Linked DNA regions of Homo sapiens: regions 2 and 3 are each linked to region 1. Evidence: fine-mapped expression QTL. A gene starts in region 1. Each other region holds a variant in brackets. All regions are shown on one strand. Distances are from middle to middle.

Region 1 (8,183 bases):
TTAAAAATACATTGCCTTCTCACCCCTTCCTACCTTTATCTTCTTTTTTTTTTTGAGATGGAGTCTCACTCTGTCGCCAGGCTGAAATGCAGTGGCGTGATCTTGGCTCACTGCAACCTCTGCCTCCTGGGTTCAAGGGATTCTCCTGCCTGAGCCTCCCGAGTAACTGGGACTAACTACAGGCACACACCACCACGCCCAGGTAATTTTTGTATTTTTAGTAGAGACGGGGTTTCACCATGTTGGCCAGGATAGTCTGGATCTCTTGGCCTCATGATCCACCCACCTCGGCCTCCCAAAGTGCTGGGATTACAGGCGTGAGCCACCACGCCCGGCCTTACCCTTATCTTTTAAAAAACCATCCACAATTTAGGACAGAGCCTTATCCTCTGTTACAAAACATGTTTAGAGTCAGACTACAACAACGAGGCATAGTGTCTGCACAGCATTATTTTAATGCAAGAAAACAAAGCTGCCAACTATAAGGATCTGAAAAATGTGACCACTTCAGGCTTATTTTAGACTGAACCACTCCCCTTCCCTAATTATCCCTCAAAGGAAATACATCAGGCACTGTGGGCAAAGAGGGAAACATGTCTAATTACAACATGTGCACTTGGTGGACGAAGAATTTGAACATTCTTGAACTCTGGCCACATTTCAGAAGACTTTCCACTTGTAGTTTAATTTCCCTGAAGAGAAAAGTTTAAAGATCAGTTGCACTTCAACCAGGGTTCTATCAAAAAAAGACATAAAGAATACCCGACAAGCATAGGCAACCAAAGCAAAAATGGACAAATGGGATCACATCAAGTTAAAAAGCTTCCTCACAGCAAAGGAAACTATCAACAAAATGAAGAGATAACCCACTGAATGAGAGAAAATATTTACAAACCATCTATCTGACAGGGGATAACAAGAATATGTAAGAAGCTCAAACAACTCAATAGGAAAAAATCTAATAATCCACCTAAAAATGGAGACAAGATCTGAAAGACATTTCTCAAAAGAAGATATACAAATGGCAAAAAAAGGTACATGAAAACGTGCTTAACATCATTGATCACCAGAGAAATACAAATCAAAACTACAATGAGTGCTCGCTTCAGCATCACATATACTAAAATTGGAAGGACACAGAGAAGATTAGCATGGCCCCTGCGCAAGGATGACATGCAAATTCGTGAAGCGTTTCATATTTTTAACAAACCCTTAAATGTTAAAAAAAAAAAGTATGAGATATCATCTCATCCCAGTTAAAATGGCTTATATCCAAAAAAGATAAGCAATAACAAATGCTAGTAAGGATGTGGAGAGAAGGGAACCTTCATACGCTGTTGGTGGGAACGTAAATCAATACAACCACTGTGGAGAACAGTACGGAGGTTCCTCAAAAACTAAAAATAGAGCCACCATATGATCCGGCAAGCCCACTGCTAGGTATACACCCAAAAGAAAGGAAATCAGGGCCAGGCACGGTGGCTTACGCCTACAATCCCAGCACTTTGGGAGGCTGAGGCAGGAGGATTGCTTGAGCCCAGGAGTTTGAGAGCAGCCTGGGCAAAGACAGCAAGACATCACCTCTACTAAAAATTTTAAAATTAGCCAGGTGCTCTGGCATGCACCTGTAGTCCCAGCTACTTGGGAAAATGGCTTGAGTACAGGAGGTGGAGGCTACAGTGAGCTGTGATCACGCCACTGTACTTCAACCTAAGCGACAAAGCAAGATCCTGTCTCTAAAAAAGGAAGAAAGGAAATCAGTACATGGAAGAGAAATCTGCACTCCCATGTTTATTACAACACTATTCACCACAGCCAAGATTTGGAAGCAACCAAAGTGTCCATCATCAACAAATGAATAGATAAAGAAAATGTGGTACATACACACGAGTACTATTCAGCCATAAAAAAGAATAAGATCCTGTCATTTGTAACAATGAACAGAACTGGAGGTCATTATGTTAAGTGAACTACGCCAGGCGCAGAAAGACAAACTTTGCACGTCCTCACTTATTTGTGGGAGCTAAAAATTAAAACATTTGAACTCATGGAGACAGAATGATGGTTACCAAAAGCTGGGAAGGGTAGCAGGGGAAAGGGAAGTGGGGATGTTTAATGGGTACAAAAACACAGTTAGAATAAGATCTAGTAAGTGATAGCACAACAGGGTGACTACAGTCAACAATAATTGTATATTTTATAATAACTTAAAGAGTATAATTGGATAGTGTGTAACACAAAGGAAGGATAAATGCTTGCAGTGATGGATACCCCATTCATGCATTGTATGCCTGTATCCAAAGATTTCTTTCTTTTTTTTTTTTTTGAGATGGAGTCTCGCTCTGTCGCCCAAGCTGTAGTGCAGTGGCGCGATCTCGGCTCACTGCAACCTCTGCCTCCTGGGTTCAAGCGATTCTCCTGCCTCAGCCTCCCAAGTAGCTGGGATTACAGGTGCGCACCACCATGCCTGGCTAATTTTAGGGTTTCACCATGTTGGCCAGGCTGGTCTCCAACTTCTGACCTCAGGTGATCCACCCACCTCAGCCGGCCCAAAGTGCTGGGATTACAGGTGTCAGCCACCATGCCCAGCCCAAATATTTCATGTATCCCATTAAATATATACACCTACTATACCCACAAAAATTTTTTAAATGTTTAAATGTTTTAAAAAGACACAAAGAGAAATTGACCACATTGCTTAAATGTGATACCACAAGGGAAGCCCGCTGAAACTTTAAGATGACCCTGACTCCACATCAAGTGCTAACAGAGGAAATGGTTTGTATTTTACAACTAGGACTAAAAATAAGACCCATTTTAAGAGCACTTTCCCCTGGAGAAAACACACATATCTTGAATTTAAAGATACATATGCAAATGCCTCAGGCCCCAGGTGGTCTTTACGGAAGCAGTCCCTGATCAGATCTCTCATCCACAGCCCACGTGCTTCTGCATTACAGAGGTGGGAAGACATCTGCAACAAATTTGGCGGTGCTTCTGCACTTCTGCTGGAGAGAAGGGCAGAAAAAAACCTTTACAGATGCAAAACAAGAAGGCTTCTCATTAGGCATTTGGATTAAGAACTATTGCTCAAGAAGCCCTGAGCAAGGCCTACAAGTTCTGATCTCTCTAACCTCCTCTCCTATGACTGTCCCCCTTGTCCATGGGCCTCTGCCATGCTGGCTTCCTTGACGCTCCGCCAACCCTTCAGACACACTCCCACCTCACGACCTTCCCGGGGGCTGTTCCCTCTACCTGGACGACTCTTCTCTCAGACCTCTCGTATCTTCAAGTCTCGGCTCAAATGCCACCTTTGCGAGGAGGAAAAAGATTTCTTTTCTTTCCCATGATATTTATCACCTCCTACTACACCGTATAATTTACTTAATTATCTATAATTCACCCCGTTTCTCCTTTCCCCCTCAAATAAGCTCCAGGAATGCAGAGATCTCTGTCCTGTTCACTGATGTCTATCACAAGCACTTAGTGCCTGACACACAGTAGGAGCTCGAGAAGTATTTTCTGAATGAATGAACAAATTTCTTGACCTGAAGATTCAGAAGAGTAAGAAGTGGGTGGAAAGGATGATGGTGAGGGGATGAGGAGAAAGAAGCGACAGCGGAGAATTCCCAAGGGAGAGACAAGCAGAGACTGGCTGAGGCCAGGCCGACCCCCTTTTCTCCCCGCAGCGCTGACGGGAGGCGGACGTAGGTGCAGGGCATCCCGCCAGCCGCACCCGAGGCACTCAGACGCAGGCAGCGGAGGCCGGCGGGCTTCTGGGCTCACTGAGAAAGTCCAGAGGCAGGACGGACCCACGCGGGCTCCGAGCAGGCCCCGTTGGGGGCTCCGACCCACGGCCCTACCCCTCCCAGCAGTGCCCACAACCCCAGGTCCTCTCCAGAATCCCCAGGGGCGTTCCGGGCCGCAATCCCTTCTCGGCTCGGGCCCCTCCACCAGCCTCCAGCGCTCGGGCCCTGCGCTCAGGCACCTGCCTGCCTGCGCCGGGGTCCCCATTCCGGCCCGCGCGGAGGCCCCAGCGCGCTCCTGCGGCCTCAGCCCGCCTGGCTGCCCCGTCGCCCGGCACAAGGGCAGGAAGCGCTCCGCGGCGCTCCCCGCTGCAAGGAAGGGGCTCCCGGCGCCCCTCGCCCCGGCCGCCCCTGCCCGACGCCCCGCCTGCGCGGCGCCCCCTCACCTCAGGGCGTACGTACGACACGAAGGAGGGCTTGGGGGCCTTGGTGCCGCCGCCACCGCCGACTACTCCTTTCCCCAGCATACCGCCGCCCTGGGAAGCAGCGACGCGCGGACGCAGAGGCGGCGGCTCGGGCTCCAGCTGGGGCAGCAGCGGCGGCCACCAGCACTAGCGGCTGGGGCTCCGCCCATCCCCAAGGCCGCGACCGCCGCGATGCCGCCCGCATCCGGCTCCGCCGCTGACACCGCTCGCCCCGCCCAGGCCCGTGGGCCCCGCCCATCCCGTGCGCGGGCCCAGAGAGCCGGGAGACCGCAACTGGAGGCCACGCCCCCCCATCACGTCAGGAGAGTTTGACCCGCCGAGATTCACCACCTTCCTGCGGCAGAGCCCGCCCTCATGCTTTCTCTGATTGGCCCGAGGCGCTGCCGGCCGAACCCCGCTCCCAACCCATTCTTGAGTGCACTTGGAGAGATGTTTCCTCCAACCAATCCAGAGAGCGTTCTCTCCGGACTTTCCAACGATTGGATGGCGAGGATAAAACCGTCGTCCAATGATCCTGCAGTCACCAAGTTGTCGTTAGCAGGGGTTCACGGCAGTCGTTTTCTTCCGTTTGCTTGTGTCTTTGGAATAAAACGTCCAAAAATGGGATGTATGGAATCTTGCTATAGGAGTTCCCAACTTACAGCGATGACGTTCAAGGTTTTTTATTTTATTATTATTTACTTTTGAGACGGAGTTTTGCTCTTGTCGCCCAGGCTGGAGTGCAATGGCGCGATCTCTGCTCATTGCAACCTCCGTCTCCCAGGTTCAAGCGATTCTCTTGCCTCAGCCTCCTGAGTAGCTGGGATTACAGGCGCCCGCCACTATATCCAGCTAATTTTGTGTGTGTGTGTGTGTGTGTGTGTGTGTGTCGTTCTGTCGCCCAGGCTTGAGTGCAATGGCGTAGTATAGGCTCACTGCAACCTCTGCCTCCCAGGTTCAAGCGATTCTCCTGCCTCAGCCTCCCGAGTAGCTGGGATTATAGGCGCCTGCCATCACACCCGGCTAATTTTTGTATTTTTAGTAGAGACGGGGTTTCACCATGTTGGCCAGGCTAGTCTCAAACCCCTAACCTCGTGATCCGCCCGCCTCAGCCTCCCAAAGTGTTGGGATTAGAGGCATGAGCCACCGCGCCATGCCGCTAATTTTTGTATTTTTAATGGAGACGGGGGTTTCACCATGTTGGCCAGGCTGGTCTCAAACTCCTGACTTCAGATGATCCACCCGCTTCGGCCTCCCGAAGTGCTGGGATTACAGGCGTGAGCCACCGCGCCCGACCTCAAGGTTTATTATTTTAAATGTAAACAAAAATGAGACAAACGATGACTCACGCCTCTAATCCCAGCACTTTGGGAGGCCGAGGCGGGTGGATCATCTGAAGTCAGGAGTTTGAGACCAGCCTGGCCAACATGGAGAAACCCTATCTCTACTAAAAATACAAAAATTAGCCTGGTGTGGTGGCGGGCGCCTGTAATCCCAGCTACTCGGGAGGCTGAGGCACGAGAATCGCTTGAACCAAGGTTGCAGTGAGCCAGGATCGCGCCACTGCACTCCAGCCTGGGTGGCAGAGCAAGACTGTGTCTCAAACAGAAAAAAAAAAGTGTCAAATCAAGTGTTAACAAGGCAGTGAGGAATAAGTTTGAGCGTTTGATAATAAAAGACTTTGTCAACTTCATTTTTCCAAACCTTTCCCTTCTTTGTGTTTCCAACAGGAAGAATATCAAGAGCCCTTAAGAGACTTCTATTTACTCTACGAAGTTATTGATAAAACCCTCATTTTTTAGTCAAGATTGCAAAGAAAATTCATTTCAGTTCTACATTTGGTGCCAAGCGTTGTTAGTTGCAGATAAATAAGATAGAATCCAGCTCTTAAGAAATTCAATCTAGTGGAAAAAAACATAAATATTTGCAGTTAATTTTTTAGGCGTCAGGCACTGTGCTAAGTACTCTCATTGGTGACCTTGATTTTTACCCTCTTAATCTCCATGTGCTCCCCCTTCCCAAATACACTCCAAGTAAATATAAAATCTTAGTGAAAACAAATGTGCTTGCTTTTGCAAACATAGTTTCAACGCAAGTCCTGCAGCTCCGTTTCCAGCTAGATTGCCACCTGTAAGCCAATATTTGGTATAGCTGTGCTGCAGCCGCCTCTGAGTTTCCTTATCCCAGTTTCCAGGTGACAAAACAGAGATGCAAGTAATTTGCCCAGGTCTCACAACTAGTCACTGAGAGAGCTGGGATTTCAACCCGGGTTTGTCTCATTCGAAATCCCAAGTTCTTAACATTATAATTATACAAATTAGAAAGGAGCACAATGAAAGTGTGGTCAATTCTATTTGGGGAGTCCAAGTTGAGGCCATCCTTACAAGGTTGAGAAGAATTCTGCACAAAAATAGAGTTATAACTAAGCATTAATCAGGCTGCAGTTCGGCCTGCTTCTTTGTATTAATAACTTCAGGTAACACTAGGTACTGACCATTTGCATCCCTGTTGTTTCAATAGGTAGGATTTCTGGCTCTGGAATCATAAGGGTTTTATTTAAGAATTGCTTAGGCAGATCCTACGTTCCAGCAGAACAGCCGACATCAACCAGTTTAAAGACCGCCCCCGCCCCAACACACACACACACACACACACACACACACCCACACACACACAGGAACCGAATCAGTGCGAGAATACAATTTCTTCATCTCTCTGTCTCATGACTTTACCCTGCACTTTTCAACCAATTGATGATCTCCACACTTTGGTCCACTTCAAAACCCTTAAATACCCTAGCCCCAGGCAGGGTGCAGTAGCTCACACCTGTAATCCCAGCACTTTTAAAGGCCAAAGTAGGAGGCTCACTTGAGTTCAGGAGTTCAAGACCAGCCCAGACAATATAGTGAGGCCCTGTCTCTATGAAACATTAAAAAATTAGTCAGGCATGGTGGTGCAAGCCTGTAGTACAAGGTACTCAGGAGGTTGAGGTGGAAAGATTGTTTGAGCCCAGGAGTTTGAGGTTACAGTGAACTGATAGGTCACTGCACTCCAGCCTAGGTGACAAAGCAAAATCCTGTCTCAAAAACCATCCCCCCGCAAAAAAACCCTAGCCCCAAACTCCTTGACTCCTCAGGGAGATGAATTTGAGGTTTCCTCCTGTCTCCTCATCCAGCAGCCCTACAATTAAACCTCTTTCACTGCTGTAACCTGGTGCCTTGGTGTATTGACTTGTCCAGTGCATTGGGCAACAAACCTATTATAGTTACAAAGTAAGGCTTCATAAAAAAAGATATTCTTCATGGGAGTGTTAAAGAATACTTTTCTTTGTCAAGACTAATATCATTATATTTTGCAGCAGTCTTCACTTTTCGAAGTAGAATGGCAGGGCAGATTTTTAGACACTGAGAAAATGTTTCCTTTCTTACTTTTCAAAGTATTTTGAATTTCCATGACCTTTCACCATAGTTGTTAGTAAATGTGACTATGTCCAAGGCTGGCTTCTTTGGACATGAAACTAGTGCAGTCACACAGAATCTCATACTTAAGAAGGCTTGGAGGCCGGGTGCAGTGGGATTACACCTGTAATCTCAGCACTTTGGGAGGTCAAAGCAGGCAGATCACTTGAGTCCAGGAGTTTGAAGCCAGACCGGGCAACATAGGGAGACTCAGTCTCTACAAAAAATACAAAGAATTAGCCTGGCATGGTGGTGTGCACCTGTAGTCCCAATCTCAGCTACTTGGATGGCTGAGGTGGGAGGATCACTTGAGCCCTGGAGGCAGCAGTGACCCATGATTATGCCACTCACTCCAGCCTGGGTGACAGAGCAAGACCCTGTCTCAAAAAAAAAAAAAAAAAAAAAAAAAAGAACGGGGGGCGAGGGACTTAGGGTTTAATCCTTTGTAGTTTCGGTTGCCCAGGCTGGAGTGCAGTGGCCTGATTTCAGCTCACTGCAACCTCTGCCACCTGGGT
Region 2 (8,183 bases), 32 kb before region 1:
GAGAAGATGAAAACAAAGGAGTTTAAATATAGCAAGGCTAGGGATGATGTAATTTATCATTGGCTTTGCCTTGCATAGGAGTTACTATGCTAACATGACAGTTACCTGGCAACAAGTGAAGAGTTACTTCCTTCTCTGTTACTTCCTTTTCGTTTGTGTGAATTTCCTAAAAGAGAAGAGCAAAGGATATTTTTCTTTGTTTAAGGGTTTAAAATGAATAACATTAAGCCATGCTTTCAGAATACACACTAAAATATCACATACCCTCAGGAGCTTTTCGTTTATGTTACAAGCTACTTTTTTTTTTTTTTTTTTTTTTTTTTTTTTTGAGATGGAGTCTCACTCTGTTGCCAGGCTGGAGTGCAGTGGCACGATCTCAGCTCACTGCAACCTCTGCCTCCCAGGTTCAAGTGATTCTCCTGTCTCAGCCTCCCAAGTAGCTGGGACTACAGGCGTGTGCCACCACGCCCAGCTAATTGTTTGTATTTTTAGTAGAGATGGGGTTTCACCTTGTTGGTCAGGATAGTCTTGATCTCTTGACCTTGTGATCTGCCCGCGTCAGCCTCCCAAAGTGCTGGGATTACAGGCGTGAGCCACCATGCCTGGCCCAAGCTAGATACTTTTTAAAAACAGGAAGTGTTCTAACTAAAGGAAGACAGAAAACTCCAAGTTATGGATATTTAATGTATTAAACTAATTATTTAGGACTGATAACTAGTAGCTGTCCCAAGTAGAGGGGGTGAGGTGGGCACTCCTTATCTCTCCTTATCTAAGGAACAACTTGAAGTGTCACATAGCAAAGCAAGGCTGCTCAAACACAGAATCTGAAATAAAAGAGATGGCCCAGCGTGGTGGCTCACACCTGTAATTCCAGCACTTTGGGTGGCCGAGATGGGCAGATAACTTGAGGTCAGGAGTTCGAAACCAGCCTGGCCAACATGGCAAAACCCCGTCTCTACTAAAAATACAAAAATTAGCCAGGCATGGTAGTGAGTGCCTGTAATCCCAGCTACTTGGGAGGCTAGGGCAGGAGAAACACTTTAATTCGGGAGGCAGAGGCTGCAGTGAGCCGAGATTATGCCACTGCACTCCAGCCTGGGTAACAGTGGGACTCTGTCTCAAAAAAAAAAGAAAAAGAAAGAAAGAAAAGAGACAACACGCCACAGCATGATCCCCTCTCCTTCCAGTGAGGATCAAGGGTTGAAAGCAAAAGATGATGTGTTCTTGAAAGAATATGGACACATAAATAAGGCCCAAAGGTAAGAATAGGAAAACATGAATGTATCAAGTCAGTATTGATCCAGCTAATCTACAGCACACCAGGGCTCAGTAAAGAGAGCTGGGACATTCTTTGTCCATTCAAAGTTACCTAAAACCACAAGACAGTGCCAAGGGATACAGTCATTTCTAACAGAGAATCAAGGCCAGTTTCTGGGTCACTGCTTCTCAGTAAAAATATATTCAAATGCCTCTACTTGGGGCTCAGTATTTATGGGATATTCAAAGATAATTAATTACAAACATGAATGAATGAATAGACCAAAGCAATGATCATATATGGCTGTTAACATAACAAAGAGAGGCACCATGGGCCTCCTAATAAAGTGTGCCACACCATCCAGGAAGTGTTCTTGCCAAAATATCTAACCTCAGTCTCCTTGAACTTCCACAGCAATCAGCCAATGTATCAGAAACACTGGGACAGAGAAACATGTCAAATAATACAGTGGGGATATAATCAGTCAAATTCTGACTGTGAAAAATTCTACAAGACACAACCAGTTTTGTCAACAAATAAAATCAGATTTTTTTTTTTCTTTGGTAGAAGGCCCTGGGTGGGAAATTTTCTGAATTTGTTAATTCAGACTGAAATATGGCATTAGAAGAAACTTGGGTACAGCCTATCTTGAGGCTGAAGAAGAATGTTAGGGCTTTTCCTGAGAACTCATTTTTGAGCATGGTATAAATTGGAGGTGACTAAGATGCCAGTAAACCAAGTCCCTCTGAGGCAGTGTGGTCAGATCACGTGGGAAGCTTGTTATCTAAACACTCTCTGGCACCCATAAGCCTGCGGACTTATAGTGCAGGGATGCAGGCTGGCTCTCTGATTTTGTAAAAAGCTCCCCAGATGATTCTGATGTACTGGTCTGGGGCTTAAGCAAGAGGAACTATTCCTGCATGTTAAAAGCTACGACTGTTTTGGTAATTTAAAAATTCTTGGCCAGGTGTGGTGGCTCACGCCTGTAATCCCAGCACTTTGGGAGGCCGAGGTGGACGGATCACCTGAGGTCAGGAGTTCCAGACCAGCCTGACCAACATGGAGAAACCCCGTCTCTACTAAAAATACAAAATTAGCCGGGGTGTTGGTGCATGCCTGTAATCCCAGCTACTCGGGAGGCTGAGGCAGGAGAATCACTTGAACCCGAGAGGCAGAGGTTGCAGTGAGCCGAGATTGTGCCTTTGCACTCCGGCCTGGGCAACAAGAGCGAAACTCTGTCTCAAAAAAAAAAAAAAAAAAAAAAAAAAAAAAAAAAAAAAAGTAAGTTATGGCTGGGCACAGCAACTCACACCTACAATCCCAACACTTTGGGAGGCCGAGGTGGGAGGACTGCTTGAGCCCAGGAATTTGAGACGGGCTTAGGAAACAGAGTGAGACTCATCTCTACAAAACAAACAAACAAAAAAATTAAAAAATCATCCAGGTATGGTAGTACACACCTGAAGTCCCAGGTACCTGGGAGGCTGAGGTGAAAAGATCACTTGAGGCCAGGAGGTCAAGGCTGCAGTGAGCCATGACTGCACCACTGCATTCCAGCCTGAGAAACAGAGCAAAACCGTGTCTCAAAAAAAAAAGTTACTAACCAAGGATCTGCAAGCTCCATTGAACTCAGAGCCTACATTCTTCGCTGCTATGTACCAATTCTAACAAACATGGTCTCCAGTTTCCCATTGCAAAAGAGAAAATCAATGTAGCATCCATTGCTTGTAAAGGAAACTCTTACCACAAAACTGATCAGAACAAATAAGAAAAATTCCGTTAGGAGAACTACTTCACATTCAAGGATCTGCCACACACAGCAGCATTCCCCAAACTTTTGGAGCTAGGTGTTGGTTTCACGGAAGACAATTTTTCCACGGACCTGGCAGGGGGGCAGGGGATGATTTTGGGATGAAACTGTTCTACCTCAGGTCATTAGACATTACTTAGATTCTCATAGGGAGCGTGCAACCTGGATCTCTTGCATGTGCAGTTCACAATAGGGTTCATGCTCCTATAAGAATCTAATGCCGCCACTGATCCCACAGGAGGTGGAACTCAGGAGGTAATCCTTGCTGCCCCCTACTCCTACATTCAACTCCTGCAGTGCTGGCACAGACTAGTACCAGTCCGCAGTCTAGGGGCTGGGGACATACAGGACAAAAGCACATGGATGTTAAAGTCAACTACCACTCTTGAGGACTTGCTGAGAGGCAGCCTGGTGGTATTTACTTCACTGGTTCTTGAAAAGTCAATTCTTTGGACTCTTACCAAGTTCACATTCAGAGTGCACATCATCTCAAATGTGTGATGATCCTGGGGCACCTTAGGAGAGGTAGAAAAAGGGTAGGGCCCTGCCAGAAAGATCTTGAAAAGAACTAGGGTGTGTGGGGGTACAATGAAGCTCTCATAGGTCAAAATGCTTATAAATGCTCCTATCAGCTTTAAATCAAAAACTGAAATTGTTGTTCTCAGATTAATTTTATCCAGCCAGAGGGACAAACTCTAAGAAGCAACATCTCTAAAGGTTCCAAAACAATTTCTTTCCATTGCATTTGACACAGTGCTAAAAGGACATAACACAGACATTTCATTTCCTAAAAGCTGCCCTACTTTTCTAGAATGAACACTTAATACTCATTTTTTTCCAGCTAAGTAGAAAATCTGAGGGAGAAAAATGAATTTGCATCTACATATTAGGTAGGTATCCATGTATATCTTAAAACAAAATTTTTTTAAGTAGAAAGTTGTATTTTTTATACAGCATAGTACTAATAATTTAAGTTTTTGTCTTTCTCTATGTTTCTCCAATATTTTCTCTGTGCATGTACTAAAAACAGAAAGAATACCGACCTGGGGCCACAGTCCAAATATGGCTCTGGCATCCACAGATGTGACTTTGGTCTTGTCATTTAAACTGACTGAGTGTCAGTTTCAGTTTCCTC[C/T]GATATACTAAAATGGAAACAATACTACCTAGTATGAGAGCTTTAAGAGATACATACATAACTTCGGTGACACAGGTACTTGGTCATGTAATTTGTTATAGTTGTTGGGGGTAGCAGGATCTGTGCTTCTGCTTGATTTCCTTTCATGAGTAAACAAAGAGTAGGGGAATTATTCAAGAATCTCTCGGCAGGGTGTGGTGGCTCACACCAGTAATCACAGCACTTTGGGAGGCTGAGGTGGGTGGATCACTTGAGGCCAGGAGTTTGAGAACAGCCTGGCCAACATGGTAAAACCACGTCTCTACTGAAAATACAAAAATTGGCAGGATGCGGCAGCATGTGCCTGTAATCCCAGCTACTCGGGAGGCTGAGGCACGAAAATAGCTTGAACCCGGGAGGTGGAGGTTGCAGTGAGCTGAGATCGTGCCACTGCACTCCAGCCTGGGCAACAGAAGGAGACTCTATCATTAAAAAAAAAAAAAAAACAAAAAAAACTGTTACATGAGACTAGTAACTTCTACTTTTCTCCCAATCTTGTTTCCCATATTAAACTAAATTGACTCTACTCAGGCTCACAATTCTTTTTTCTGTGGATCAGGAATTCCTGAAATTAGCAACACTGAAGTTGGCCCTAAATCTGTAAGACTTTAACTACATTAGGAATATCTGAAGCCAGGGTAAAGGAAATAGCATTTTTCTATTAATAGGATTTATCTTCTAGCAGCACACCATGATTTATGTCTGGTCATTATGCATCTTATCTTTTGCAATAGAAAGCACTTTGAACCCTCTGCAAGACCAAAAAAGTAGACCAATGGCTTTCTTAAGAAACCACATCTGGGCCGGGCGTGGTGGCTCATGCCTGTAATCCCAGCACTCTGGGAGGCTGGGGCGGGTGGATCACAAAGTCAGGAGTTCGAGACCAGCCTGACCAACGTGCTGAAACCCCGTCTCTACTGAAAATATAAAAATTAGCCAGGCATGGTGATGCATGCCTATAATCCCAGCTACTCAGGAGGCTGAGGCAGGAGAGTCACTTGAACCTGGGAGGTGGAGGCTGCAGTGAGCTGAGATCATACCATTGCACTCCAGCCTGGGAGACAGTGCGAGACTCCGTCTCAAAAAAAAAAAAAAGAGACCACATCCGAGAGGAAGGACCTGCTTGGGCATGCACACACAAAAAAGCTTTCTCAGCTACTAATTTTGTTGACAGTAGATCAAGTTGCTAAAAGGTGGTAACAAATTGAGAATAGAAACCTATATAACCACTGGAGCACTGGAATTTAAGGTGCCACACTGTACTCAATCATCACGAGCATCAGGCTGGGTGCGGTGGCTCATGCCTGTAATCCTGGCACTTTGGGAGGGCGAGGCGGACGGATCACGAGGTCAGGAGATCGAGATCATCCTGGCTAACATGGTGAAACCCCGTCTCTACTAAAAATACAAAAAATTAGCTGGTGAAACCCCGTCTCTACTAACAATACCAAAAATTAGCCAGGTGTGGTGGCGGGTGCCTGTAGTCCAGCTACTCTGGAGGCTGAGGCAGGAGAATGGCGTGAGCCCGGGAGGCGGGGCTTACAGTGAGCCGAGATTGTGCCACTGCACTCCAGCCTGGGCGACAGAGCAAGACTCCATCTAAAATAAATAAATAAATAAATAAATAAATAAATAAATAAATAAATAAAATAAAAAATAAAAATCATCATGAGTATCTAATCCTTTCTGGTTAACACTTCAAAAAAATTATAAATATACACTATGCAAGTCTTACAGATAATCAACTCAGGTAAAAAACAAATAACCATCATCACCACTATCAACTGCTTCCCCCCTCAAACAAAAATCCAAACCAGTCCCAAGAAGAGAAATAACCTAGAGGACTCCAAAAAATCAGGGTATACAAATAAGAATCATAAAGAAATCCTTGCCTCAAAAATAAGTTTAATTGGAGTTTTTCTTTGAATTTGATTTTCACAAGTTACCTGTTTGGGTGGGTAGGAAGGACGGAACGGAGAGTATTCACTGGCAATGTCTGTAGTCTCTTCATCCCTATATTTCACAATCGCTTTTTGAACTCCACAAGAAAAACAAAGAAAGAACTGACAAATATGGAGCTAATATATTTCAATATTCTTAAGAGAAAACGGATTTACCATTCTTTGCTTGTTGATCACAGGAGAATGAACATAGCTGAATGAAGGAGAGCAGAGGTGGATACCAACAAGGTACGAGAGCACCCGTATCTGGATGTGCTGAGTCCTACATGTGGATCTTGGAGTGGGTTCCCCTGAAATTCCCCTATGTGCATCCTACTCCTAACCATGCTGTATTCTGAATGTGTATAAGCTGTTGTTTTCATTGGCAAATTTGTTGGGTGAGTGATTAAAGGCTGTCCAAACTTTACAATTGAATGAGTAAATATAATCTCTTTCTTAGTGGCATTACAAATTACTACACTGTGACCAAGAGTCACTTGTGGACTGTAGACATCACAGATGTCCAATCTGTGAACGCCAAAGTCTACTGTTCCTTTTTCCAAAGTGGGTACAGGGCCAGCCCTTACTGAGGTTGAGAAGTGAATAATAACAAACATTTCTTGGGCTCTAAGTGCCAGCTACTGTCTAAAAAGCTTTGTATTTATTTATTAACTCATTTAATCCTCACAGCAAACCTTTGCAATAGAGTTATTATACCCATGATTGTCTCCATTTTACAGATGAAGACACCCTGCTAGTATGTGGCACAGGTGAAAGTCAAACCCTGTGCGCAGTCTGCGTTCCTGGCCCAGTCTGCATTCTTATTCAATGCCACACTGTCATGTGGAAAGAAGGAATGAAAGGAAAAAGGAAAAACAAGGCAGAATGATCAGTGAAGTACCTGCTAGATCCACCTGAAACCAGGTAAAAGCGAGCAACACAAAGTGACCAGGGAAAGCCTCGAATGAGAGTTATAGAGAGGCCAAGGGAAGCTAAAGGGAAAACAACAACAAAAGACACCTACACCCAACCTAAGTGACACTGGCCAGCTGCATGGAGAAGAACCTTGAGGCTCCTCAACACCTACTGAAAGTGTTACCTCTTATGACTCACTCCACTGGGTCCTCTGAGGCATGAGTCTCTAATTTTCAAGCCAACTGACTCAAGAGTTCAATGGGACTCCAGGAAAGGCTCTAACCATGAATAACACTGGTATGTATGCCTGAGCAATTCTTGCTTCCTTTCAAGAGTATATAATCTTGGCCAGGCGCGGTGGCTTATGCCTGTAATCACAGCACTGTTGGAGGCCAAGGTGGATGGACCGGATCACTTGAGCTTAAGAATTCGAGACTAGCCTGGGCAACATGGCCAAACCCCATTTCCACAAAAAAAAATTTTTTTTTTTTTTAATTAGCCAGGCATGGTGGCATGTGCCTGTAGTCCCAGTTACTCAGAAGGCTGGGGCGGGAGAATCACCTCAGCCTGGGAGGTCAAGGCTGCAGTGAGCTATGATTGCACCACTGTACTCCAGCCTGGGTGACAGAACAAGACCCTGTCTCAAAAAAAAAAAAAAAAAAAAAGAATAGAAAAGAAACAATAGCTAGGCTTAGCCACTAATATGGATGGCATCACCAAATGCTCTACTCATATTGCAATATACTGAAAAACGGAGGATTCCTCTAAAGCTTAATGGAAAGACTATTACTTGTGAAGCCTTTTCAGAGAGAGCAGTAGATAGGCCCAGCACATCCCAGGATCTAACAGCCAATTCAATCAGCATCCAGTGAGAGCTGCCTGTGTACTATCCCTATTCTTTGGGGTGGTGGGAGCTTCTTAAACCATAAACTAGTTTTACAGAAGGGTCTAGAGTTGCCCTTAAGCCTCTGCGCCTTTAACTCTGACACTCCCTACCAACTACCTAGTTAGTAGATGTTGACAACCTTACTTCTGCAGCTGTGAAACACGAGGTAACATTCCTCACTTATTCCACTAACTATCATG
Region 3 (8,183 bases), 95 kb before region 1:
TACCATTTACCCAAACACAAGGAAGTAGTTCTAGAAATAAAAATAGTTTTTAGAAAAAAAAGTCAACGTTTACTAAGCACTCCCTATGACCAACATTGTACTATGCACCTTTCATGGACTGCTTTTTAAAATACTCAAGTAATTATATGTAATATCTAGTCAAAAAATGGGTATTTCAAATTCCCCTCTTGATACTTACTGCAAGAGAAACGACATCAATATAAGTTTTGCTGGCCAGGTGCATAGCTAGACTATACCTATAGTCCTAGCTACTCAGGAGGCCAAGGTGGGAGGATTGCTTGAGCCCAGGATTTTGAATCCACCCTGGCCAACATGACAAGACCCTATCTCTTAAAATGAATAAATAAACAAATAAATAAAATAGGGGTACTCAATAGATAAAATATTTATTTATTTATTTTTAATGGTTTAATGTTTAATGATAATCATTGTTTTGCCATGGGGTAACTAGACATGACTGGCAGTTTATATAAATAACCCATAATTAGTCCACTTCAGTACAAACCAAATAATCAGTTTCTCTCTTTTCTTTTTGTGAATTTTCCTGGGTCATATTGACAATTTTTCCTAATACTACACACTGTTTCATCTTTGTCTTTTTCATGCATGCTTCATTGACACATATAAAATTAAATGTCTGCATCTTGAAGGTCCCAACAGTTAGTTCTTTGGTTCCCAAATCTTTTGTTTGTTTATTATTGTTATTATTTTACTTTAAGTTCTGGGATATATGTGCAGAATGTGCAGGTTTGTTACATAGGTACACATGTGCCATGGTGGTTTGCTGCACCTAACAACCCATCATCTAGGTTTTAAGCCCCGCATGTATTAGGTATTTGTCCTAATGCTCTTCCTCCCGTTGCCCCCAACCTCCAACAGGCCCCAGTGTATGATGTTCCCCTCCCTGTGTCCATGTGTTCTCATTGTTCAACTCCCACTTATGAGTGAGAACATGACATGGTATTTGGTTTTCTGTTCCTGTGTTAGTTTTTTGAGAATTATGGTTTCCAGCTTTATCCAAGTCTCTGCAAAGGAGATGATCTCATTCTTTTTCATGGCTGCATAGTATTCCATGGTGTATATGTGCCACATTTTCTTTATCCAGTCTATCATGATAGGCATTTGGGTTAGTTCTAAGTCTTTGCTATTATAAATAGTGCTGCAATAAACTAGATACAATATTTATAATAAAACTAGTATTATGTTAATATAAAAGTTGAGATAAAGTACAAGGTCAAAGCCAAGGTCTGATTACATTGCTTTACCATGAGACCCCCTTCACTTCCCTGAAAACTGATGCTGAACAATGCACCATAGCTTCTATCCTTGGGTTCCTTTCTCAAGCTTTTTCTAATCATTGCTTTTCTTATGTGGAAGCAGGCAGGGGCCTAGTGATGAAGGGTCCTATTAGGCTGGGACCTGAGGGGCTGAGGAGTCACATTTATCCTAAGGGCAACTAGAGGCCTTAAAGAATTGTATGTAAGTGGCATGATCTGGTTGGCATTTTAGAAAGATTCTGGCTGCAAAGTGGGGCTCAGATTGGAGAGAAACAGGAAGGATGCAATCAGAGAAGTTGATAGAGGAGTCCAGGTGACAGCACAGGACGGCAGGGCGCAGGGTGGTGACAGTGGGATGGAGAGAAGTGGAAGGACTCAAGACAGGCAGCAGGTGGACTCAGTGGACCTTGGGGGTCAATTAGGGCTAGGGAGTGAGGGGAAACAAGACATCTAGAATAGTTCCCAGATCTCTAGTTTAGACAACTGAGCAAACGGCACACACATTTTATAAGACACAGAGTTCTGAAGGAGAAGCCAGTTTGGAGAGAATAAAATGAGTTTAATTTTGGATGTGTTGAGTTTGCAGTGCTTTTAGACATTTGAGTCTTGTGATATGGGTCGAAGCAGGAGATGAGATTTGTTGGTCATCTGTGTATAGGCAGGAGGTAAGAATTTAGAGGTCATTTGTGCACACGAGGTAATGAAGGCCACCTCCCCCAGGAAGAGGGTTAAGAGTGAACACAGCCAGGCGGGGTGGCTCACGCCTGTAATCCCAGCACTTTGGGAGGCTGAGGCAGGTGGATCACCTGAGGTTGGGGGGAGTTCAAGACCAGCCTGACCAACATGGAGAAACCCTGTCTCTACTAAAAATACAAAATTAGCTGGGTGTGGTGGCGCATCCCTGTAATCCCAGCTACTTGGGAGGCTGAGGCAAGAGAATCACTTGAACCTGGGGGGCAAAGGTTGCGGTGACCTGAGATGGCACCACTGCACTACAGCCTGGGCAACAAGAGCGAAACTCTGTCTCAAAAAAAAAAAAATAAATAAAGAGTGAACAGAGACCGACGGAGGGCAGGAGAAAGACCATTCTCCCAGGGAGGCCGAGAAGGAGCAGCCAAAGGGACGGAAAGGAAACCAGGAAGTACAAGATCATGGAGATCAGGAGAAGAGAGGCGTTCAAGAAGGCAGTGGCCCACAGAGCTGGCCACAGAGGGAGCCAAGCTGGGTCTGACAGACGTTGACAGGAGCCTTCCCGTGTCTATTCTCTTCTTCCTGGTTTGTCACACTCAGTTCTAATTGACAGAAAAGCTGAGAACTTGTCCTGAACACTGTCCTTTGGGTTTGGTGGCCTGGAGTGGACTGACAAGTGAGTGTGACATGGGGCAGTGAAAACCCAAATGAAGGTGACTGTTTAAGGCACCCCCAGCCCGTGGCCTATTAGGGACTGGGCTGCACAGCAGGAGGTGAGGGGAGGGTGATGGAGCATTACTGCCTGAGCTCCGCCTCCTGTCGGATCAGCAGCAGCATTAGATTCTCTTAGGAGCGGGAACCCTATTGTCAACTGTGCATGCGAGGGATCTAGGTTGCACGCTCCTTATGAGAATCTTAACTAATGATTCTCTGATGATCTGAGGTGGAACAGTTTCATCCTGAAACCATCCAACCCAACCCCTGCTCCTCCTTGGTCTGTGGAAATATTGTCTTCTGAGAAATCAGTCTGTGGTGCCAGAAAGGTTGGGGACCACTGCTTTAAGGAGTTTGGCTGGCCAGGCGCAATGGTGCGTGTCTGTAGTCCCACCTACTCAGGAGGCTGGGAAGATCCCTTGAGCCCAAGAGTTCAAGTACAGCCTGGGCAACATAGCAAGACCCCATCTCTAAAAATAAACACATAAAAATATTATTATTATTATTTTTTGAGATGGAGTTTCACTCTCATTGCCCAGGCTTGAGTGCAGTGACGCAATCTTGGCTCACTGTAACCTCCACCCACTAGGTTCAAGCAATTCTCCTGCCTCAGCCTCCCACGTAGCTGAGATTACAGGCATGCACCACTAAACCTGGCTAATTTTGTATTTTTAGTGGAGACAGGGTTTCACCATGTTGGCCAGGCTGGTCTCGAACTCCGGACCTCAAGTGATCCACCAGCCTCAGCCTCCCAAAGTGCTGGGATTACAGGCATGAGGCACTGCATCTGGCTAGATTATTCTT[A/AAAAT]AAATAAATAAATAAATAAATAAATAATAAGTCTGTCAGGCTGATAAAGACAGGGAATAGGGGTGGGGAGTGTAGCTTGAAGAGGAAGGTAGGATCCAGGCATTCATTTTGTTTTGAGATAGGCTAGACCAGGGCACATTGAACGGGCGGGGTCTGTAGAGACCAAAGGACTGGGAGACAGAACATAATAGAAAGCAAAAGGTTCCTGAGGGATAATGGAGGGGGGGATTGGGAGGGTGGGGGGCACAGGTATAGGGCCTGGGTGTGGGGAGAAGGAGGCCGAGACTTCCCCCGGAACAGGTGGGACTGCGGGAGAATGGTGGGCCATGGGGCCATGGAGCCTGGACTGGTGCGGAGAGAGGAGCAGGAGACACAGCCTCCCTTGACAGTGCTCGGTTAGATCCGCAGGGCTCGGGAGGAGTTTCTTTCCTATCCTCTTTATTAATAAAACTGCCCTTTTATCTATTTTTTATTGGTTTTTATTTTGGGAGACAGGGTTTTGCTTTGTCCCCCAGGCTGGAGTGCAGTGGTGCGATCTCTGTGCACTGCAGCCTCGATCTCCTGGACTCAAGCAGTCCTCCCACCTCACAGTTCCCGGAGTAGCTGGGACTACAGGCCTGCACCACCACACCCAGCTAATTTTGTTTTTGTTTTTGTAGCGATGGGGGTCCCGCTATGTTGCCTAGGCTGGTCTCGAACTCCTGGCCTTCGTCAATCCTCCCCACTCGGCCTCTCAAAGTGCTGGAATTACAGGCATGAGCCACCATGCCCAGCCCAAACTGCCCTTTTTATCTCTGGTGATGGCTCTATCCACAAATATTAAAGATGATTTTTTATAATAATATAACAAATCTCGAACCTAATGGTTTAAATTCAACCTCCTGAATTAGCTTCTTCAGCATGTATTTACTGAGTGAAAAGTAGACAGCAGGGCTACCACGCCGGGGCAATCACTTCTGTGTCCTACAGTAGGTCCCTAGTTAAAATGAGTATTTGGCCAGCAGCCAAAATGGAAAGAGAGGCCTCAAAGAAACTTGCAGCTGCGGGACAACTTCTCTCTCCCCAGCCTGTCCTTTCTGAGAGCCACGAATACCTTCAACCACCTGATTTAAGTAGAGGAATACCCAAAAAGGCGAGCCGTTGGGGCCTAACCACAGAACTACATCTCTGAACAGAGCAGCCATGGCTGTCGCGCTGGAATTCACGCGTCTAAGCTGCTCTTTGTCTTGACAATTTGGCTTCTTTCTGCTTGAGTCAGTCCAGAATAAGTTCTCCTTGTGCCTAGAACACACTGAGCCCTTATTCCCTGGCATGTGCTATGTTATTACGAAGAAAACCAGCAAGTTTTGAATCTGCTCGCACAGTAGAACTATGCATCAAACTGGTTATGCAAAAGGCAGGGAAGGGTATGTGTTACGTTACATTTTTCTTACCACCTGCCATAAACAGAGGCTGTTTAATTTCTTGGCTTTTCACTCATTTTTTTTAAAAAAATCACGAAACATTTCTTTCCTGAATAGTGTTCTGCAGTGTGAACGATTTTGGGCGGGGGGTGCACATTTGAGAATGTTACTGTACTTCAAAGGCTTGGCAGGACTTCTTGAACTGAGATGAATGGAGAGGTGCTCTGTATATTCAAGGCACTGTGTGGGTTTTTTTTTTTTAATTTTATAAAAACTCCACATTAAGGATTGAATCACATAATCATCTAGTTAGTTTTGCCATTTCCTGTGAGGCAAGGGGCGGTGTGGGTCAAATCTTCAAGAGTTCTGGAAAATCAGCCCCATACCCAGAAGCCCCAAGACAGGATGAAACTCGATTCCCTGGTAGAAATAGGAAGGGCAATTTAGACATGGCCCCCAGGCTTTGCGAATCTAAAAATTATTCCCCTTCGTAAAGGGGAGGCACAGGCAGGACTGGGGAGAAATCAGGCAGTTTCTGTTGAGGTAGGAGGGAGCTGAAAGCATTAGTGAGGAATGGGCTTGAGACAAGACTGTCACAATTCCCTGCACGTGCCCTTTGAGAAGCTATGGAAAAATGCACTAGAGGCTGGGCGCGGGGGCTCACGCCTGTGATCCCAGCCCTTTGGGAGGCCGAGGAGGGGGCTATTGCTTGACCTCAGGAGTTCAAGACCAGCCTGGGCAACATGGTGAAACCCTGTCTCTACCAAAAATACTAAAACGAGCCAGGCGTGCTGGTGCGCGCCTGTAGTCCCAGCTATTCAGGAGGCTGAGGTAGGAGGATCGCTGGAGCCTGGGAAGTTGAGGCTGCAGTGAGCCCTGATTGTACCACTGCAATCCAGCCTGGGTGCCAGAGCAAAAAAATAAATAAAAATAAAAATAAATAAATAAATAAATAAATGTATTAGAACTCCACCTCAATTCAGAGCAATTTCCATGAGACAATGCAGACTGAGAAAAGCAAGATAAAGAGATGTGGTGTAAACAATATCCCAGTCCCACCTCAAATTCATATGTTTAATTTGAACCACATGAAAATGTCATTTTTGTAGTAAAGAGTGGTCAAATGTTGGCAGTGTCGTATTGGTTCAAAATGGTTAAATGTTGGGAATCTAATATATATATATATATATATATTTTTTTTTTTTGGAAGTGGAGTCTCGCTGTGTTGCCCAGGCTGGAGTGCAGTGGTGCAATCCTGGCTCACTGCAACTGAGTAGCTGGGACTGCAGGAAGGCACGCACCACCACGCCTGGCTAATTTTTTTTTTTTTTTTTTGAGACAGAGTCTCACTCTGTCACCCAGGCTGGAGTGCAGTGGCACCATATTGGCTCACTGCAACCTCCGTCTCCTGGGTTCAAGCAATTCTCCTGCTTCAGCCTCCGGAGTAGCTGGGATTAAAGACACCCACCACCACGCCCGGCTAATCTTTTTATATTTTTAGTAGAGACGGGGTTTCACCATGTTGGCCAGGCTGATCTCAAACTCCTGACTTCAGGTTATCCACCCGCCTCAGCCTCCCAAGGTGCTGGGATTACAGACGAGAGCCATTGCGCGCGGCCCCTAATTTTTTTTTATTTTTTATTTTTTGAGACAAGTCTCACTCTGTCGCCCAGGCTGGAGTGCAGTGATGCAATCTCGGCTCACTGCAAGCTCTGCCACCATTCTCCTGCCTCAGCCTCAGCTGGGACTACAGGCGGCTGCCACCACACCCGGCTAATTTTTTTGTATTTTTTAGTAGCGACGGGGTTTCACCGTATTAGGCAGGATGGTCTCGATCTCCTGACCTCGTGATCCGCCCGCCTAGGCCTCCCAAAGTGCTGGGATTACAGGCGTGAGCCACTGTGTACGACCTGTATTTTTTAGTAGAGGTGGGGTTTTGCCATGTTGGCCAGGTTGGTCTCAAACTGCCAACCTCAAGTGATCCACCTGCCTTGGCCTCCCAAAGTGCTGGGATTACAGGCATGAGCCACTGTAATCCCTTTCAAAATAAACAGGTAAGAAACTGTAGCTGCCTCAGAGAAGAAGAGGGAGACTATTACTTAGAATTTGTGGAAACCGAAAATTATCAGCCCCACATTTAAAAATTCTGCCTTGACTGAAAAAATGATAGCCTGTTGACACAATTGCTTTAAAAATACAAGGCCCTGAACTAGCCATGATACTATTTTTTTTTTTGTTTTGAGACGGAATTTTTTTTTTTTTGACAGCTCATTGCCCAGGCTGGAGTGCAGTGGCACGATCTTAGCTCACTGCAACCTCCGCCTCCCAGATTCAAGCGATTCTCCTGTCTCAGCCTCCCAAGTAGCTAGGATTATAGGTACCCACCACCATGCCCGGCTAATTTTTGTATTTTTTGTGGATACAGGGTTTCACCATGTTGGCCAGGTTGGTCTCAAACTCCTGTCCTCAGGTGATCTGCCTGCCTCAGCCTCCCAAAGTGCTGGGATTACAGTTGTGAGCCACCGCGCCTGGCTGTTTTCTTATTTTGATGTACCACCCCCTTGAATGAGCAGCTAAATATTTGGGCATTACTGCATGTTGCAGAGGCCTGGCCCCTGGGTGGGGGATTGTTACACAGTGTGCTTGGCTAGGCTAGACCAAGCCAGCCAGGTGCCTGGCTTGGCGGCTTTGTCAGAGATGCTGTCCCCAAACTGCTGTGGCAGGAAGGCTGTCCATCTCCCAGCAGACCCTATGGACTGCAGTAGGCGGTCCCTTGCCCACATCTCTGGCAGTCCCTGCACACACCAACAGATTCCCAGGAGCAACCCGCCCTCAACTAGTGGGGAGAGGAGTTGTTGTCAGTACCCCAGCTTCCTCACTCTTCTGTGGGACTATTCCAAACATGCTCCACATGGTCTCTCGGGAGTCCCCAGGGGGCTGGCCCCAGTTGCCCACAGTAATCACTCGTTCCTTACTGTATCTGTTATTCTTTGTTTTCCCTTTCTCCGTTCCCCATCATTTCACAGTGGTACCTGGGAACACTGCCCAGATAAACCACTTGCACCCAAATCCTTGATCCAGAGCCTGCTTCTGGGGGAATCCAAACTAACACATATAGACCTCAGGCAAAGAGCTCCTAGGCAGCAGCCATGGTGGACAGAAGGCCACCAGCAGAATTCATATGCCCTGGGCTCCCGCACAGCTCTAAGGAATGAGCAAGGAGGCCCCCAGATATAACCATGAATATCCAGTAAATCAACTATAATGTAATTAT

Direction of the effects. Positions count from the first base shown, and alleles are read on the strand shown. Sizes are in standard deviations (SD) of each study's normalised expression. Not every link is listed here.
For the expression in follicular helper T cells of the gene that starts at base 4,374 in region 1, A is the low allele of the variant in region 3 and AAAAT is the other (large effect, 2.0 SD a copy in Schmiedel 2018).

What was found.
Region 2: its variant is fine-mapped to the expression of MTMR12 in whole blood (INTERVAL, PIP 0.93).
Region 3: its variant is fine-mapped to the expression of MTMR12 in follicular helper T cells (Schmiedel 2018, PIP 0.95).

The regions. Positions count from the first base shown.
Region 1 is chr5:32,308,566-32,316,748 of GRCh38, forward strand. It overlaps MTMR12 (myotubularin related protein 12), which reads right to left and starts at 4,374. Exons shown (of 16, transcript NM_001040446.3): 1 at 4,193-4,374. The coding sequence starts at 4,273. It also overlaps the pseudogene RNU6-378P. RefSeq lists silencers at 1,417-1,577, 3,703-3,842, 3,913-4,702 and an enhancer at 4,793-4,842.
Region 2 is chr5:32,276,577-32,284,759 of GRCh38, forward strand. It overlaps MTMR12 (myotubularin related protein 12), which reads right to left. Exons shown (of 16, transcript NM_001040446.3): 2 at 106-166. Among named protein-coding and RNA genes, the nearest start is that of MTMR12, 32 kb to the right of the region's middle. RefSeq lists enhancers at 4,090-4,139, 4,160-4,269. The variant C/T (reference allele first, on the strand shown) is at 4,204.
Region 3 is chr5:32,213,497-32,221,679 of GRCh38, forward strand. No RefSeq gene overlaps it. Among named protein-coding and RNA genes, the nearest start is that of GOLPH3, 43 kb to the left of the region's middle. The variant A/AAAAT (reference allele first, on the strand shown) is at 3,507.